Linked DNA regions of Homo sapiens. The protein of the gene in region 2 interacts with the protein of the main gene of each other region in a pairwise test. Each region holds a gene or a part of one and is shown on either strand. Other genes may lie near its edges.

The links. Proteins that work in one complex are often made in the same cells at the same time.
Region 1: the proteins of SOX5 (region 2) and FOXP2 come close enough for resonance energy transfer, tested with the Homo sapiens proteins (one study listed by BioGRID).

The regions. Positions count from the first base shown.
Region 1 is NC_000007.14:114,655,786-114,662,814, forward strand, and holds part of FOXP2 (forkhead box protein P2), read left to right. Parts: intron 1-2,280; coding exon 2,281-2,482; intron 2,483-3,570; coding exon 3,571-3,647; intron 3,648-3,786; coding exon 3,787-3,888; intron 3,889-6,279; coding exon 6,280-6,401; intron 6,402-7,029. UniProt on the Homo sapiens protein: Transcriptional repressor that may play a role in the specification and differentiation of lung epithelium. May also play a role in developing neural, gastrointestinal and cardiovascular tissues.
Region 2 is NC_000012.12:23,533,662-23,540,690, reverse strand, and holds part of SOX5 (transcription factor SOX-5), read left to right. Parts: intron 1-4,021; coding exon 4,022-4,238; intron 4,239-6,168; coding exon 6,169-6,472; 3' UTR 6,473-7,029.

The DNA.
Region 1 (7,029 bases), on a different chromosome or scaffold from region 2:
TCAGTACATGAACACAAGGTGCAACCGCACTGTCTATTATATGACCCCATTTACTCTCTGAATGGTACTTCATTAAATGGTACCTTTTGGCCATGCTATGGATGGATGAAAATCAAAGTTATCAAGGCTGCGAGTCCTGAATAATGAGTTTCACCCAACCTTGACTATATTCAGATGAGTCGAGGTGGCTAAGTGCTCATCCTAGCTTTTACATGCTTCCCTTTAGTTAATAATAAATTCTATTTTATCAGTTTGTGATTGTACGCCTACAAACATGGTATGCTTATTATTACAGGATAGCAGAATAAGTTACCGTAACATTGTAAACATGAGTGGTTTGCATTGAAAAAGATGTATTTCTCCTGTTTTGATAACTTTTAATGTGTTGGTAAAATGTACAGAGTCCTGTCACATATTCATCAGGATAGATATTTCATTGATTTGCAATTTGGTATTTTCTGGGTTCTGAATGTGCCATTTTGTTCTGGTTTGCAATTCTAAAAGTGAATATGTAACCATCCAGCTGAGTTTTTTTTTTTTATGTATGGGGAAATACTTTTCTTTTCTTTTCATATTTTTAACATACAAGTATGTAATGCTGATATTTTCTAAATATAACATTGTTATGTATATGTTCTGATGTTGATATTTTAGAATATTTGCAAAGTCACATACAGATGCATATGGATGTTTCTGCGTTTCTCAAACTATGCAGAGGTGCTCTTGTACATCCCAGAGAAGCTTACACCAGTGGCTTTGTAAATGTATTAAATGCAGCATTTAGGAGCATTATCTCAGCTTTCATTTATGTACGTAACAAAGAATTCCCTACCCAGTCTGCTGGCTTAGAGTATGAACAGAATAACAGTTTGTGGTTTATTGGGAACAGATGCACTTGGGGATGCCTTCAGGGTGCCAGTCGTTATTATTAGACTGCTAATGTGCTTCTTCTGGCTGCTGCCCAAGAAAGAAGAACAATTAGCTGGCATATGTTAATTTTTGTTTCCCTAACAAATCTCTCTACTGACTAAATGTGTAAAACAAATCCACAAAGAAAGATCAATCAATGCTGTACACATCATTTTCTCCCCATTAAAAAAAGGTTTATCTTAAGAAGTGTATTTGGGATTTAAAAAGACAGGTGTTACTAAATTATAAACAAAAGCTGAATATTCTCTATTTAGCCACTCAGCAGTTACTTTATAGAGAAACAGAACAATTAGAATTAGTTTTCTTGCTTGGTTGTATAGCCTACTGTATAAAGTAAAAAGGACCACAGATTACCTCTTGTGAATACCATTTAAATGTATGGCAGAAATCTTTTTATGTGCTGCCCTGCGTAAAAATTTTGCTAATTGGATGCTATTTATGACAAAAGATGTGTGGTAAATATGACAGAGGTGATATGAGTTTTTTGATAATGAAGAACAGGGCCTTTCTGAGGGGAGTAATGAAGGGCACACTGTTAAACAGCTTGCATACATTCTCACCTTTTTTCTTTTTTCTACCCTGACACCCACTTTCCAGGGTACATCAGCATTAAGTGACACTGTAATCATAAATTGAAAATGATACTTCCAGAGGAATTGGCAAACTTGACATTTCATTATATTTGTTAACACATGCCACAAATGATTGTTAGTGAGGAAATTCCATTTCCCTCTCTCCATCTCCAATCAGATTTAATTTGAAAATTTTCAGCCTCCTCCGGCTAATTTGCAATTAAGACAATTTTGTTTGAATATGTAGTAATGTCATTACCATTCCACCAAATTAGCAAGGAGACTAAAGGTCAGTGTAAAATTTTCCAGCTGGCTGGAGCCTCTCAGCTGAGATTTGGGACTACGAAAAAAAAAATTCTGGCATCAACAGAATAGCAACTTACTTTAAATCCTATTGGTTAAAAACATTGCATCCTTCATTATTGCTGTTGTTGTTGCTTCACTGGGGGCTAGACCTGTTTAACAACAGGGGCAGTCGATAATCAGCAACTGGCTTTTATTTAAGGAAATAGACTTTCGCTGAAGTCTGGTAGGACAAGAAGGAGTTAGTCCTAAGTAACATTGCAGTAGATTATTAGATAACCTCTAACAGAATCCTCTAATTAGAGTTCTTATGATACAATTTCATCCTGTAATTAGTTGAGATTGGCTGCTTCCTTTTGCAGCTTATTAGTGGCAACACAGCTGTAGAAGTGAATCCACTCTCATTTGTCAAACCTTTTTAAGTCTTTTTCTCTTGTCTCTACCTTTTTCCTGCCCTTCTCTTGGGCCTTTGCAGCTAAATCTGGTGTCTAGTGTCACCATGTCGAAGAATATGTTGGAGACATCCCCACAGAGCTTACCTCAAACCCCTACCACACCAACGGCCCCAGTCACCCCGATTACCCAGGGACCCTCAGTAATCACCCCAGCCAGTGTGCCCAATGTGGGAGCCATACGAAGGCGACATTCAGACAAATACAACATTCCCATGTCATCAGGTAGGATATGAATGCTCAGTAGAGCACTTTTACTTTGGGAGAGGAAAACTGTAGCTGAATCAACTGTACATGAGCCATTCCAGAGCACATGGAAACTCATGTCATGATTTATGGAGTGATAATTGTTTTATTCCTGGTAAATGCGAATAGGGGCGATTCCCTAAGCACATCATGATGAATTGTTCTGAATGGTTGTTCAGGAAAGAAAGCTCTCCCCATTAGAGACACTGAGAGATGTCAGGATAGCCCATATTATCACCTCAATTCAATGAGATCCTTTGATCTCTGAGGGAAGACTAGCAATCCAACATCTGTGAGTAATGCTGTAGAGAAGAGCCATTTTAAAGGACATATACGAAACACCGTTGCTTTATGCAAGACAGTTCGAGGTTTACATGAATCAGTCTTTATCAAGGTGCTACCTAAATGAAATCCTGTCACAGCTCCTAATGCCGATATGGCACTTTGCTTAAGAAGCATTGTGAGAGGCAAACTTTGCATTTGCATGGAACACAAATTTACCTTCTTTCCCTCTCTTACCCTTCTCCCTTCTCCCTTCTCCCCCACCTGCCATCCCTGGGGCATCTGGATAATCACAGTCACACATTGTAACCATTATTAGCCCAGAGCCCCCTCTTTACAAAAAGTGAAGTTATTTTCAACATGGGTGCTTGGTGAGGGTTTTGTGTTTCCTTTGTTAGATGGCCACAGATGCAGAGGTGAGCCTGTTGTACTTTAAGACGTATTAGATGAGAGAAGCAAAGATTATAGCAGGGGGGCAAAAGTCCATGTAAGAATATGCCTAAACTACCCACTTTAAAGAAGACCTGGCTATTGGAAAAAAATCCTCAGGCCAGCAGGTCGCACAGTTCCTGAAGTACCACGAACAACTAGGGGATGCTTCATTTGCACTTCGCGTCAGAAATGGCCTTTTCCATATAATTCAATTCCACTGTCATGCTTTGTGCTTTCACTAGTCGGTGGCTTCCTCACTGAATCACTTTACCAATACTAGAGGAAATATGAAAATTCAATTATATATAATGTGAATTATTAGCAGAATTAACACCTAGTTTTTATTTTTATAGAAATTGCCCCAAACTATGAATTTTATAAAAATGCAGATGTCAGACCTCCATTTACTTATGCAACTCTCATAAGGCAGGTAAGTAGAAGGAAAATTAACTTTGCCTGATTAAATTAAAATTCATTAATGCTTAAAGTAAGGCTTGGATGAGAAAGTGTCATCTAGTCTAGTTAGTAAACCATTATTTTATGTCACTATGTATCTTGTCTCATTTCAGGCTATCATGGAGTCATCTGACAGGCAGTTAACACTTAATGAAATTTACAGCTGGTTTACACGGACATTTGCTTACTTCAGGCGTAATGCAGCAACTTGGAAGGTAACTACTTTTCCAGCAGTTTTAAGATGCCTACCACAGTTCCTTACAGATAGCACAAGGAACATTTATTTACATGACATAAGCAGATTAGTATCTGCTTCCCCTCTTTTTAACCTGCCTCTTGAATGGAATGAATTCCCTCTCTCAAAATGACAAGTGAAAGAATAATTTTGCCTCTGATATAGTTTTCTAATTTGGTGCAATTAATAGCTGAGGCTTGGCAGAGAAACGAGGGCCTGACACACTAATTACAGTGTGAGCACTCAATCATCAACACCTTTGTTAGTCGCACGATATTACTTTTTCTCTTGCATATTATTGGCTAATTAGTTTGAAAAATGTCTGTTTGGCTTGTGCAACAAATGGAGGCTGTAGGTTTTGTCTTGGTCTGCGCCTTTTGTACACATCATACCTCATCATACAGACTGAAGCTGCCACGGGAGTGAGGGCCATGGCTACTCAGCTGGAACTAAAAGAAAGTAAAGTGAATATTATCCTGTCAGAACATAAATGCAGTTTATTTACTTAGACAAAAGGGTTCATCTATATCCCTGTCCAAACAACTTCATTGTCTGAATCTTACAAGGAGCTAAAAAAAATGTTAGTTCTATGCATCTATTTTTGGAAAAGAGCAACGTCTGGAAAGATAAGGGCACTCAGCACAGACTAAGTGAACTGTTTTATTTTCATTTCAAAAAGCAGTCAGAAACATCAATTAGCCACAAGCCATTTGGTACAAAAGGGGAAAATGTTTGTAGCTGAGAAGAATAGAAGCAGCAAAGCACTCATCAGCATACTGAGAATTTTAGACTGTGAGATATGCTAAAGTGAATTAATTTGGATTTAAAATGCAAATTAATCTGGCAAGCGATTACAGATATATGGGTGTGAGACTCAGAATGCTTTTAATTTACAAAATGTTTAGATGTTATTAGTTGCTACAGTATGTGGTACTGTAAATGAATGTAATTGTTTTATTTATGCACAGTTACTTGGTATATATTTTATATGATGAAAATGTCAGCAATAATCTGTGCAATATATGTTTTGGAGGGTTTTCAGTAAGTAATATTTATGTTGAAGATTTACATTTTCTTTTGTTACTCATTAGATAATGTAGTGAATGTTCTGTCATTTGATTTACTGAAAGAAATTTTAAAAGAAATGAAAGATGATTTAATATCTTAGCTTGGTCTCATCTCCACAGCTCGGGGATCCAGCAAAACTCATTCTGAACAGCTTATTAGTTCTAACTATATCGCATGCATAATAAAACTGCTCATTTGCTCATTAATATTAAAATTATCATATTCAGAGCCATGGGCATTAAGATCAATCAAATCCTTGGATTTCAGGTCAGATGCTAGATCTGCTTATGCTTTTTTTTTTTTTTTAAGAATTCTTCTCTTAAAGCAAGCTAGAAGCAGCTTGTCTTTGTGCAAATAGAAAGAAATCTTCATCAAAATTACTTTGTTTTATATTCGTAATATAAGAATTAGGTCATTTCTGAGTACTTGATAGCTATATGCCAATGTACCTTGACAGGAAGAAATATTTGCTTAGGTTTATAATTTGAATTATGGAAAATACTCGATGTAAATTATGTGGTCTACTGTATATTTATTATAGCTAAAATTTTAGGAATGACTTAATTTGATTTAAAAATGTTAATTTTGAGTAATTACTCTAATACAAAGCTGCCAACAACATCTGTTTGCATAATCATTATGGGAAGAAAATGTACTCTCGGGTTCCAGCAACGACTTTCAGTTGAGTTTAACATTTACAAAAACTTTATTGGGAATTTAAAAAAAATCTAAGTGTGTCTTATTGTGCAGGCAGAACGTTACACTGTAACTTGCATATGTCATCTAATAATACAGAATAAACAAACTCTGTCATTTCATTATTATAGGGATGAAAAGAATGCCTTTGAGCTTATTTGCATAAAGCTTTGTGCAAAATTAACACTTGTCACTGTAGCCTTTTTAGCATTTTAATACCTCAAGCAGGACTGGTTCCTTTGGACATTTCAACCATCCCTGAGTGCTTGATCAGGGACACAACAGAGCTGACCTAATTGTTCTGGCATTTTCAAAGATACTGTAATTTGTACAGATATTGCAATTTAGACCAGTTCAATGAAAGGAAGGTTTTGACACAGCTATTATTAAAATAGCTTGGAAGGTTCTCTTATCACAAAGTTCAAACTGCAGATTCCAGTAATTTGTAAGTTTGAGGTTTGTAATATCATGCCATATTTTGATTTTAATACTTAAACATGTTAAGATTTTTCACTCTGATTAAGTAAGATCAATAATGTAGTATGTTGGGCTGCCTTATTAGACAATATTATTTTTGCCATTTTTTCTTCTCTTCTGTCTGCTTTAGAATGCAGTACGTCATAATCTTAGCCTGCACAAGTGTTTTGTTCGAGTAGAAAATGTTAAAGGAGCAGTATGGACTGTGGATGAAGTAGAATACCAGAAGCGAAGGTCACAAAAGATAACAGGGTATGTTTGTGATAGTTTTGTAATCCTGTATCCTGCATCCACCAGGAAAAGTAAATACTTTAAGTTGGGGCTGGGGTGGGGAGACAGTTAGCTTAATGGCATGCTAACATTCTCGTGGCAATGAACTGCATTTTGAATCTAGGTGTAGGTGGCATAAATCAACAGTAGCCTATCAATTTTTTCCGTAAAAATCATCACAGGACTGTTTTGGTTACTATTTTCATCAATTCAGCATTTCTACGTGTATCAAAAAATTGTTTTTCAAGATGGAACATGCTTTCTAGAGAGAGAGAGACACTTCCTGTTTTTATACAATACAGTAGCTTCCAGTAGAAGCTAAAAGGCTTTTTAAAAATGAGGCTAATTTTGCATATACTGGTAATCCTGAAAGTACCTTTTTATGAAGAATTTATGAGAAGACTTTATAAAAAAATAAGGCTATTTCTTTCTCAAATACTCTCATTTTCCAAGACAAACTTTATCATTTGGACCTACCTTGCTTTTACTCCAACTGTGATGGTTTTCTGTACAGTGCTGTTGAGATGACCAAGGTATACTAGTGTGAGAAAATTACTGGCTGGGAAGTTTGAATTTTGTTTGTTTTATAGAGAACAAGACTGCCAAACTT
Region 2 (7,029 bases):
ATCACCTTTTACTGCTTGGCGCTAGATCAGGGGAAGAGGGACATCTTTTTCTGATTAGATATACAGTAGTTTAGTTGGAGTAAAATGTGCAAATTCACTACAGACCCCACGGAGATGACAATGTTGCCCAGCGCAAACTCTTCACTTTCAGTGTATTGCCAGATTTAGAAAGGAAAGGAATAATCGTTGGACCTTATTTTTTCCCCTATTTTGAGCATCAAATACTTTTGATTGAAACTTCCTCTTTTGTCATCAGGAGGAAAACCCAATTGTCCTTCTCTGCTTTTTATTATTATTATTATTATTATTATTATTATTATTATTATTATACTTTAAGTTTTAGGGTACATGTCCACCATGTGCAGGTTAGTTACATATGTATACATGTGCCATGCTGGTGTGCTGTACCCATTAACTCGTCATTTAGCGTTAGGTATATCTCCTAATGCTATCCCTCCTTCTCTGCTTTTTTATTCTAAAACGACAACCTTTTGAAAGCAGCAGGGAATGAATAAACTCCCTGTACATCAGTCCAGAGTAAGCAGCCAGCCACCCCCAAATCAAGTAGATATTTTTTCTCTCTTTTTTTTTTTTTATTGTTGTTTATCCAAAATATTTTCCTGCCATTCTCATCAAGTATGTTTCAGGGGTTAGTTAACACCTCAGCTGCATACAATGGTTATAGTACCTGCAAAGCCATTGAAATCAAAACCAAACTTGTCAGTTGGTTAAGCTAATTCAAGGTTACTATTTTGAAAATGAAAACTGGATTTACCACCAAATGGAAACACTGCCCTGTACTGTCATAAAATATAGTAGTCAGTCAGCCATTTGACCCGGTTAGTACTTAGCCTATCTTTATTCTTAGTTTTGAAAAGACTTGGAATTATTATATGGCCATATTTTAAAGTGTAATTTAGGATTCAGTGATACTCTCAAAGAAATTATACTATCAAGAGTTAAACTATTTTATAATTCCCGTTCATGCCAGATTTGGAAGCCAACTTATCTGAGAATTTACACATCTTTTATTATCCCATTTCTTTACATACACGCATCTTTTTTTCCTCTTTTTTTTTTTTTTTAAGCCAGACCAGCTTTCTTTAAGTTAGTCTAACTCCTCTTTCCACCGAAAGACCTCAACTATTATATTCTTCCTCAATAGGATGCTCTTCTCTTTGTGAGCCCCACGGGAGTCATTTCTACAGCAAAGCCTTCCTGACCTGCAGAGGATTGATCTTGCCTCATCATATTCTCTTACCTTCCTGTACTTTCTACAACTATAAGGAAAATAATAAATTTTGTAATTAGATATTTAATGTATATTCCCTGACTGAATATAAGCTGCAAAGAGACAGGAACTATAACTTTCTGTATTCACTCACTACTATATATTTATTAAGGAATGAATGCAACATTATGTACATAGTAGGAAATATACAAACAAACAGCTCTCGCATTCCAAGGCAGATTACTTCTAAGCATAAACATTTTCTTTCCTTTGAGAGGCCAAAGCCTTTTGGCGTATAGATCATTTAAACTTAGGGAAGAATCTTTGGCAATTCCCCTTCTAATTGAAAATGCTTGGCCAGGAGTGGTGGCTCACACCTGTAATCCCGGCACTTTGGGAGGCCGAACCGGGCAGATCACGAGATCAGGAGATTGACACCATCCTGGCTAACACGGTGAAACCCCATCTCCACTAAAAATACAAAAAAAAAAGCTAGCCGGGCGTGGTGGCGGGCGCCTGTAGTCCCAGCTACTCGGGAGGCTGAGGCAGGAGAATGGCGTGAATCCGGGAGGTGGAGCTTGCAGTGAGCCGAGATCACACCACTGCATTCCAGCCTGGGCGAAAGAGCAAGACTCTGTCTCAAAAAAAAAAAAAAAAAAAGAAAATGCTGGTTTCGTTTTCGAATTTTGGGATAAAGCTAGCTAATAAATTTTATATTAGATCAACCATCCTTGATCCATTTATCAGTGTATTCCTATTTGTGAGTTATTTATGGTAAGCTCACTTTCCACTCCCTGATCTGAAGTTCAAAAAACTGGTATAAATGCTTGGAAGAAACTCAATGAAAACGGTTGTTCTAGTTCAATAGGATCATAACCATATCTGTGTTTATATAGGCCCTGAGAATAACATAATGGTATTCAAGTATCTTCAGAGAATAATGCTGGGCCAACAAGGAGTTTGAGATTGTCCCTACAAATGATATGGCTTGACCAACCAACCTAATGTTGGATGATGCTATTTAAACAGAAGTTTACGAAAGGAATAGAAAAAGAAACTCTATTATTTGCACTGTAACCTGAGTTTATACTGTAAATAGAATAAATTCACATTGGCTTTCTAGATTTGGAAAAATCTATATTTATACCTATGCAATACAATATCTCTTCCAATGGTAACATTTCTAAGGGAAGAGATATTGCCTCTTTCACTGTATGCTTTAATAAATGTAACAGCCCATATTGAGGAACTCTTTACATGTGTAAGGAAGAACTATTCAACAGTGAGCTATTTGCATTTAAGATAGGGAGTTACGGGTGAGTAATGAACTCATTCGAAAGATTCTAAGATCTTACTTAGATGACATTTGAAGGCAGGTATAAGGCCATTTGGTAGGGATATCCTAGTTCCAGTTTATCGGTCTTTGTGCATTCGCGTTGAGTTGAGATGACTATTTGCAGATAAACACACTTCATCTGCAAATAGATTTTTAAATCACTATTAAAAAAAAAAAAACGCTATTACTACTGAGGGCTGCCAGCACGCTGTCACCTCTCAATCCGAACATCAGAAGGAACAAACTCCGGACACACCGCCTTTGAGAACTGTAACACTCACCGCGAGGGTCCGCAGCTTCATTCTTGAAGTCAGTGAGATCAAGAACCCACCAATTCCGGACACATTACCACTTCTATTACACATAGCCATACTGACAGAATCCAAGTTTTAAACCATATCTAAAATGTGAATTAGCATAAACTATTTTTATTTAAGCTTCAAACTTGTCTTTTTTAATCCCAGCTAAATTCACACCAAAATTAATAGTGAAAAGAAAGGGGGAAAACAATTTGGGTTATTATTACTAAAGCAGACTGTATCATGGGAAGTGACGTCTTTGTATGTTATTGAAATTGATTTATTAAGAGAAAATCGTAATACGCATTTACAGTAATTGTGACCTCTGCTATATTTTGTATAGTAGGTGGCCATATGTAGGAAAGGGCATACATTATAGCACAATTTAAGTTATATCAAATCTGAGTTTGAGTCACAGATCTGTACTTCAGTAATTATGACCCTGGCTAAGTTAGTCCATCTATTTGAATCTCAATTTTCTCATCTATGAAAATAGATAGAAATGCTGTCTCTTTTATAAGATTGAGGTGAAAGGTAGGAAAAAGACATCAGTATGTCAAGGTTTCAGCACAGTGTCTGGCACATAGTAGTTACCCACTCCATGTTTATTAATATTATAATTTTAATTATAATTAAATGTTTAATCAAAGGAATTTTTAATTACTACCATTCCTGTAAGCTTAAAATACTTAAACATTTTGGGGAGGATGAGACTACATGATATATGTTGGGAACTTTTGTAGTAAAAAACATCTCCCACATAAAAATATTCAATAACTAGATAATTAGTCTCAGATTCAAAATGCATGATAACATATCATGTAACTTTTCTGTTCACATGTGAATTATATCATGATCTAATGTAGAAATGAGAAATGTATCCATTAAATTATCTATGAGCTTTAAGGGACATAATACAAAAGTTTGGCTAGAATGCAAACCAGAAAAAAAAAAATACTGCCCAGTGTTTATATCTTTAGGTACAAAACCACCACCACCTCTGTTCTTGTGGGATCTCACTAATCAAAAACAGGTTTATGTATTTCTGGGTTTTGGCTAACATCTCAACTTTAGATTTTCTTGTTCTCAGCCATATCACTTTCTGGAATGCTTAGAAGCTGTGCAAATTGGAATCCTAACCTCCTTTCTTCATAGGATCTCGCTGGAAAGCTATGACAAACCTAGAGAAACAGCCATATTATGAGGAGCAAGCCCGTCTCAGCAAGCAGCACCTGGAGAAGTACCCTGACTATAAGTACAAGCCCAGGCCAAAGCGCACCTGCCTGGTGGATGGCAAAAAGCTGCGCATTGGTGAATACAAGGCAATCATGCGCAACAGGCGGCAGGAAATGCGGCAGTACTTCAATGTTGGGTATGTACCTTTTAGTCATTTTTCTCATGGGGCAAACTTCCTGTTATACTTAATGGGATGTGAAACATATTTGTTCAGTTGCAAAAAGACATTTTGAAAAAGAATCTGAGCTCACAGTATTTTCAGAGACAAATAGTCTCCCACATGATCTTGAAAAATATGTCCATATGAATCCACTGCAAGTTCCTAGCTCTACCATGAGATTTGTTAACAACTGGTTTAAAAACAAGATATCTACAAGCAAATGATTTTGAAGTTTTCTATTAAAAACTTAGAAGTATAACTGGTTCTTTTCTTCATTGGTTTGCATTACTTCCTAAGCTTCACCATGATAAATTCTAAAACTAACAACTTTGTTGAGACAATACAAAATAAAAATCATTTCAAAAGCAAAAATACTTATTTCTAAATATAGAGAGGTTAGTGAGCTATCAAGGTACATGTGTGGCCTTTGTGGATCACACAAGCTAGGGATTATATTTAGGGTGTAACAAGGTTGGGAACAGGAGGTTTCATTCTGAATTGAGAACGCAGCTCCGAGATGTTTTACAATGCTCCCGTGGCAAGGTTGTTGACAGTGCTGTAGATGGGCTACAGAAATGCATTGCTTCTATAGAATTCTCTCAAAAACCCAAAATAAAGTTGTTCATATTTGAAACAGAAGTTAGTTTCTAAGAGCTTCTTAGAATAATAAATATTGTTCTAAATATGGGCAGAGAAGGACTCATAAAACCTTTCCAAATCTGCTCTGTCCCCTCCAGTTCCTTGGAAGAGGCTGCATGCTCTGTCCAGTGGTCTGTGATTCATATGCAAGCACATGACTCCTCACAAAGCTAAACACAATGCCCAACAGTTCTTGGGCAAATAGTAAACATACGAATGAATAAAAACAAGCATAAATGCACATCATCTATTCATCCTTTCCAATAGGACCACCTACATTATTTATAGGACCAGATGCAAAAATGAGGAGACAGGGTCTCTTGTTAAAAAGTTATTAAGAATTTCAAGTCTGTGGCAGCACAACTTTAAACCAAGTATGGGACCTTAGTGCAGTTGCACAGTTTGTACATCCATGAAGCTGCTCCTGCTTCCTACCACTACGAGGCCAGAACTGTTTCAGAGACTCAGTGGACAGTGTGAATTTGTTCAGTTCTGGTGTGTTCTGGGCAGTAAAGTTTTATTTTGAGAACTCTAATGCTTTAGGATTTTCCCATTAAAATTTAATTATCTTTAGATTTAATTCTAGGGAAAAATACTATTTCTGCATGTTATAATGAAAGAAAAATGAACTTGGAATCAAGGACCTGGGTTCTTCTGCTTCATCTTTCTGCACCTCAGTTTTTTAATAAAACAGTAGTAACAAACAGGATTAAGAATAAGATGGACAACACATGTCAATATCTTGTACTCTATAAAGCACTACCTAAACATAAGGTATTAGGCCTGGTGCGGTGGCTCACGCCTGTAATCCCAACACTTTGGGAGGCCGAGGCAGGTGGATCACCTGAGGTCAGGAGTTCAAGACCAGCCTGGCCAACATGGTGAAACCCCGTCTGTACTAAAAATACAAAAGCTAGCCAGGTGTGGTGGCAGGCGCCTGTATTCCCAGCTACTTGGGGGGCTGAGGCAGGAGAATCGCTTGAACCCTGGAGGGGGAGGTTGCAGTGAGGCAAGATCACGCCATTGCACTGCAGCCTAGGCAACAGGAGCGAAACTACGTCATCTCAAAAAAAAAAAAAAAAAAAGAAAAGAAAAGAAAAACAAGGTATTAAAGTTCAAGTAGGATGGAGTTTGAAAAATGTTAGGCAATTAGATAAAATTAGTACCTTAGAATTGGACATTGCTGAGCAAATTAATTATGTAGTAAAGTCCACATCTAACTATTCACTTACCCACGATGTCTTTTTGGAAATTCCTTTCTTGACAGGCAACAAGCACAGATCCCCATTGCCACTGCTGGTGTTGTGTACCCTGGAGCCATCGCCATGGCTGGGATGCCCTCCCCTCACCTGCCCTCGGAGCACTCAAGCGTGTCTAGCAGCCCAGAGCCTGGGATGCCTGTTATCCAGAGCACTTACGGTGTGAAAGGAGAGGAGCCACATATCAAAGAAGAGATACAGGCCGAGGACATCAATGGAGAAATTTATGATGAGTACGACGAGGAAGAGGATGATCCAGATGTAGATTATGGGAGTGACAGTGAAAACCATATTGCAGGACAAGCCAACTGATAAGGGTCAAAAGATTGTTGTGACCTTAGGACTTAAAGAAGCCCTAACTGGTTCATCCTTACCAGTGGCCAAGCACATTAACTTTCTCATACACTGACTGTTACTTTAACTGTTAGTCTTAAATAGTTGGGACATCAGCTGACTAATAGACCTCAGCCTCAAAAGGCTTGGAAAGAAAAAACAAATACAACAAGCAAACAACAATATCAACAACAAGAGATTGAAATAAGCTATGGGTAAAATAATGCCAGTAATTCAGCTGCTACATCCAAGCACTGAAGTCTTACCCGTCAACTTTTTTTTTTTTTTAAATAAACTTTATGGCTGTTTGTTCTACAATGTTCTAGAAATTCTCACTCAGGTACACAGTGCCAACAAGTGGCTTGTGAATGTGTTTTGTTGTTTTGTGCTACAATTTTTAAAAAGAAAAAAGTTTTGTTTTGTTTTTTGGGGTTTCTGGGTTTTTTCCTTTTCTTTTTCTTTCCTTTCATTTTTTTTCTTTGTAATGCACCTGACAGAAAAAAAAGAAAAATGAATTTCTCTTTACTTCTCTCCAC